Regions from separate parts of the Homo sapiens genome. Here region 2 is linked to region 1. Evidence: fine-mapped expression QTL. A gene starts in region 1. The other region holds a variant in brackets. All regions are shown on one strand. Distances are from middle to middle.

Region 1 (2,756 bases):
CACCAGCCCAGCGCAGGAAGCCCCCTCTCCCTTCCCAGAATTGACCCTCTGCACCCTCTCCTGGGCCCTCTTCTCACTACCTCCATCTCCACCATGCCCCAACAGAGCCCCTCCCCCAGGCCCCTTTGGCCGCTCTCCACACCCCACAGCTTTCTGTCTGACCTGGTTTCTTAGCCTCTCTGGACCTCAGCCTCCTTATCTGTAAAATGGGAATAAGGATACTACTTCCCTTGTAACGCGGTGGTAAAGTTTAAATAAGCTAAGGAACACACTGCATGTCCTGCGGGCCCTGGCACACCAGACATGCTGACAGACGCTGGCTGCTTTCATCAGCTATGCAACCAAATTCTAAGGGGCCCTTCGTATGTGTCAGGCTGCGTGCCAGGAACCTAGAGGTACCACCGTACCACAGTACAAGATGCTGTGTCTGGCTTCGAAGAGATTTCAGTCTATGTGGAGAGAGAGAAAAGGGAAGCTATCAGCCAATAAAATCGTTTGCAAGCCTGTAATTCAGCAGGTTTTCAAGACCTGTCAAATGCCCAGCAATCTCACTCTGCAACTCTGCCTCTTAAATACAGCATCTTCCGGCCCAGCGTGGGGGTGGCTAAGCCCATCATCCAGATGTGATGAACTGGGGTCTGGGAAACCCACACCGGCCTCATCTGGCTTTTCCAGCCTGTCCTCCCTTCCACACATCAGGCTGACAGCACCAAACACGGCCGAGGCCTCAGCCCTGAGTCTCCCCGCTGCAGAGTGCCCAAGCCTGAGTTCCAGCAGGTTCTTCAGGGGCCGCTGACCAGGGAACACTGCGGTGAGGAGCGAGGACTTCGTCCCCACCCCGGCCCAGGGCAGGGGCTTCGTGGTGAGCCCACCCCACCCCAGAAGGCTCCTGGAAGGGCAGGGCAGACTGGCAGCAAAATCCTATAGGATGGGCCGGGCCAGAGGCAAGGGGTGGCCAAAGGCACCTGTCCAAGAGGTGGGAGGGACCACACCTGGGGGCAGGGACGAGTCAGGCACAGGGAACTCCGCCAGCCTAGAGGATCAAATTCCTCCGGGGTGAACTCTGAGATAGAAAGTTGGCCCGGGAAGCTCAAGGAGGGAGAGCGGCAGAGGGGAAGACTCTGCAATTCTGCTTGCCCCCCACCCCGGCCCAGGCAAGCCACCCTGCCCCCGGCCCCCACCTGCCCGCCCCGCCTGCCCTTCCTCACCCCGGTGCCTGCGGGATTGCTGGAGAGAACGCGGCGATGGAGCCGGGCAGGACCCAGATAAAGCTTGACCCCAGGTAAGTGAGGGCGGCGGGCCCTGGGCCAGTCGCTGGGCAGCGGTGGCCCCTATCCCGCGGCCTGTCCTCTCTCCCTCCCAGAGCCCTTTGGCGGCCGCACTCAGAATGAGACAGGACTGGAAATGCTCTAGCTGTTCCTAGGTCCTCAGGGACAACGTGGGTTTGGGCCAGGGTGTGACACTCCAGGGCCTCGGCCTTGCCCCCCAGCGTGGGGAGAGAAAGGTCGCAGAGCGGGGGCTGTGGAAGGCATTCGCAGAGGAAATGGCAGCATCCCTCAGCAGCAGGGGGCCCGTCCGTCTGTAAGGACTCACCCTTCCTCTGGGATCCTGCTCTTCCTCTCTGGTCAGTCCCTGGGCTGCTGCCCGACCCGCATGGAGAGAATCCACGGTGGGCTCTTCAGGCACGGCAGCCAGGCACAGCCTGGCTAGGTGGCAGCTTGTCTTACTCCCCCACCTGGGCCAGTTCTCCACTCCCTCTAAGAAAAGGGCCCTGAGGCCGGGCGCCTGTAATCCCAGCACTTTGGGAGGCTGAGGCGGGAGTCCAGGAGTTTAAGCCCAGTTCCAGTTTGAGTCCTGGAGTTCGAGACCAGTGTCTGAGCAACATGGCGAAATCCTGTCTCTACCAAAAATATAAAAAATTAGCCGGGCCTGGTGGCGTGCACCTGTAGTCCCAGCTTACTCATGGGGATGGGGGTTGAGTAGATCACTTGAGCCCAGGAGGTCAAGGCTGCCTGTATGAGCCAAGACAGACCACTGCACTCCAGCCTGGACAACAGAGCAAGACCCTGTCTCAAAAAGAAAAAAAAAGAAAGAAAAAGGAAGGAAGGAAGGAAGGAAAGAGAAGGGGAAGGAAGAGAGAAAGAGAAAGAGAGAGCAGAAGGAAGGAAGGAAGGAGAAGGGGAAGGGGAAGGGAGAGAGAAAGAGAAAGAGAGAGTGAAAGGAAGGAAGGAAGGAAAGAAAGAAAGAGAGAGAAAGAGGCCCTGAGGGGAAATGGACAAAGTCCTGCACTCAGGAGTGGTTGAGGGTCCAGTGTGCAACCCTCCCCCTTCCCCCAGCCCCCATGGTTCTGAGCACAGGCTGGTGTCTCGCCAGGTACACAGCAGATCTTCTGGAGGTGCTGAAGACCAATTACGGCATCCCCTCCGCCTGCTTCTCTCAGCCTCCCACAGCAGCCCAACTCCTGAGAGGTGAGTGGGGACCCTCCTCAGAGGGAACTGAGAGGAGGGAAACCAGGATAGCTGAGTGGAGCTGGGGAGAGGCGGCCCTGAGCTGGTGCACCTGGGCAGCCGGGGAGAATAACTGGCCCGGTGTCTGTCATCGTGGTTAAGGCTCTGGAGAAGGGCAATGCCTCAAGGAGTCAGTGGGTCAAAAGGGTAGCATGAGAGCCTGGCTCCGGAGAGCAACCGTCATGTTGGGCCTCCACAAAACTGGCCTCAAAGCTCATTCAAACTGCGGACACTGCGACCTGGGGCGCT
Region 2 (3,011 bases), 21 kb after region 1:
ACAGAGTCTCGCTCTGTCACCCAGGCTGGACTGCAGCGGCACCATCTCTGCTCACTGCAACCTCCGCCTCCTGGGTTCAAGGGATTCTCCTGCCTCAGCCTCCCAAGTAGCTGGGATTACAGGTGCCCACCACCACGCCTGGCTAATTTTTGTATTTTTAGTAGAGATGGGGTTTCACCACGTTGGTCAGGCTGGTCTCAAACTCGTGGCCTCAAGTGATCCACCAGCCTCAGTCTCCCAAAGTGCTGAGATGACAGGCGTGAGCCACCACGCCTTGCCTGGGTGATCCAAGTTTTAAGAACCAAGGTAGTCCTGCTGTGCAGGCAATGATTCTAGCCTCTGACCCTCAGGCGGAAAACTAGGTGTTACCAGAAAGTGTTTAGGGAGTGGACTATGAGATGCTCACAGTCCTAGCAGAGGCAAGGAAAGAGAAAATGTGGTTTTCTTAGCTGAAAACACTAAAATTCCACCCCCACAAGGGGTATTTATGAGTGACAGGGGTGGGGCCTGGACATAAGCAATTTTCCCCTGGATCTAGCCACAGGATTACTGATGGGTGATGATCTGCTAGGCCGCGTAGCTAAGCAGCTAAGGAGACAGGAGGCCAGGGCTTTAAAAGTTAGAGCATGCTCAACAGCAAGTGCTAAGCATTAGCATTCTTTGATTTGAAAGTCAAGTGTTGAATCCCCCCGGGCAAGCCAACAAGGCAGATGGAACCACAACCACCAGGCGTGTGTGAAAAGTGGGGAGAAAACCTACCACACTCTTGTCACGTGAGGGTATGCTCTGTGGCTTGCTGGAGGAGCAGCAGAGGGAGGTCCCTGCCAGCTGCAGCTCTCAGAGGAAAAGAAAGATGTGGAGCACTGGTTCCAGGGAAGAATGTTCTGAAGAGGGACAGAGGTCAAGGTGATAAGGCTGTTGCTTTAGAAAGGAAGGTGTTTCCTATGCTTTTGCCTTTACATTCTGTGCAAATCTCTCTAATATGGCTATGACCAAAATGGATTAACATCAAGTTCCAACAGCAGACATTTACAAAGTATCCTTTGTAAAAGGCTAGGTAATATTAATAGCATTCAAATAGGAGTAGCAGGGCCAGGCACTTACTCCCAGTAGGAAACTAATCTCAATCGACTTGGTATAGGATTGAGTATTGTCCCGCTCCTCTCCTCATCATTGTAACTCTAAAAGTGTTCCTTCCTTCGAAGGTAGATGGCACGAAAGAGACTGACAAAAGCTCCCAAAGAACTGGGTCACAGAGTTTTCTGAGAAGATGAACACAGCAGAAACACTGCAGTTGATGCCATGGGTCTGCTTCCATCCCCATCAGTGTCTTCATGGACCCCATTGGGTCCAACAAGAAACTCCTCAGGGAGTAAGAAAAGTTAGGTTCAGATCTCCTTCCCGCAGCCACAATGACACTGGTGACAGCAGTACGTTCAGGGGATTTGTGACTGTAACTCTGCTTTTCGCTTTTCCTTAAGGAAATCAAAATTAAGATATTTCTCCACAAATTACCCATCAGCGTGGCTCATTTCGTGAAGGACTTGGCAAGCCAC[A/T]TAGCTTCAGAACGGAAGGCAAATGCTATAGTATACCGGGAAGAAAAGGCCTCTGCGTATTACACTACCTCCTTCTTCTGCCCACTCCTCAGGGGCAAAAAATTAGTTCTACATTTGAAAGACGAATTTTTTAAAAAATTAATGAAAATGACAATTTCCCTGTTGAGATCACGTGAACATAAACAGTGAAACAAAGCCCTTGGGGGGGGGTAAATGGATGCAGAGCAGGCTTCTAAGGTGCAGTCCCCCTCCTTCGTGTGGGTGAGTGATGTCACTTGCAGGACAGGCTGTTTGGGTTCCCCCAGTCCTAGGTCTTCTTTCCCCAGTTGTCTTTCCTTTGTAGCTGTCCTTAGGTTTAGTGTTGGGGTCACAATTTGGAATTCAACAGAGAGCTTCTGAAGGTAATGGGACAGAAAGGGAGGACAGGAAAGGAGGGAGGAAACATTAGTCTTCTTCATCCTCACTGATATCATAGGCTGCAGCCTTGTGCCTGGAGAGATTTGCTGGGGAGCAAGGTGGGGAAGTCTTGCCGGAGAAGGGCCATCGGAAAGAGGGGGAGGGGGAGCGCTCGCGAGTAGGGCTGCTGCTGGGGCTCTGCTTCGGGCTGATGGCCTGCAGCATCCGGCCCTTCCCCTCTTTCAGCATATGTTTCTGCAGAAACCGAAAGGAAGAGTCAGAAAAACACCGTGGATCCTACTTAATCATCACTGAAGCATCTAGGACTGGGATAGTCTATGCTGTACTATTTATTTAAGGGTTCTCCCCTGCTGTCATCACCCGGGAAATTCCCCATTCTTCCTCAATAATCTAGTCTAGGATTATTCTAATTTATCCAAACACCTTCACAGACAGATCCTTCCTGATATCTAACCTAGGACTCACTTGCTCAATCTTTTATTTGGTTGAAAAGACTGCTACTCCTCAAAGACAGAATTCCCACCTTACCTGGGGTTCCTGCTGCAGCTACTTGTAGTGGAGGCTGCTTTCTTTTTATTGTTCTTTATTCTTTCCTTTCCTTCTATCTAAAATCATACCACAGATAAAAGCTGGGCAAGGCGACTTGCTTATCTTGTCACCAGACTTTAAGGTTGAGAGAGAGCTGGCAAAATTATCTAGGAGAATGTGTAACGTCTTTCTGTAAAGGTTTCAAAAACCTTGCTGGGGACAGTTGAAAGATAGTTCTGCCCAGATAAGGGGATAGACTAGATAACTTCTCAGTGTCGATGCCCCTTCCTGCTCAATGATTCTGTCATTCTTTCCACAACATGGAACTCCCTACATTGTCCAGTGGGAAAGAACATACCAGTGCTCCTTCCGGACCAAACATTTCCAGAAAACTTCCAATGAATTCTCGGGACTTCTCCTCCCACTTCTGAATGAGGTCAATGCTTTTTTCCTCCACCTTCTGAACAAATTCTTTTGACTTTTCCTCCACATCTTTCACTTTCTTCTTTA

Evidence for each region. PIP is the estimated chance that this variant, and not a neighbour inherited with it, causes the effect.
Region 2: its variant is fine-mapped to the expression of SLC51A in tibial nerve (GTEx, PIP 0.93).

The regions. Positions count from the first base shown.
Region 1 is chr3:196,215,469-196,218,224 of GRCh38, forward strand. SLC51A (solute carrier family 51 member A) reads left to right here and starts at 1,066. Exons shown (of 9, transcript NM_152672.6): 1 at 1,066-1,282; 2 at 2,374-2,468. The coding sequence starts at 1,245. The region is part of intron 2 of LOC105374304 (a long non-coding RNA gene); the gene reads right to left.
Region 2 is chr3:196,236,688-196,239,698 of GRCh38, forward strand. It overlaps PCYT1A (phosphate cytidylyltransferase 1A, choline), which reads right to left. Exons shown (of 9, transcript NM_001312673.2): 8 at 2,860-3,011; 9 at 1-2,207. The coding sequence ends at 2,001. Among named protein-coding and RNA genes, the nearest start is that of SLC51A, 22 kb to the left of the region's middle. The variant A/T (reference allele first, on the strand shown) is at 1,557.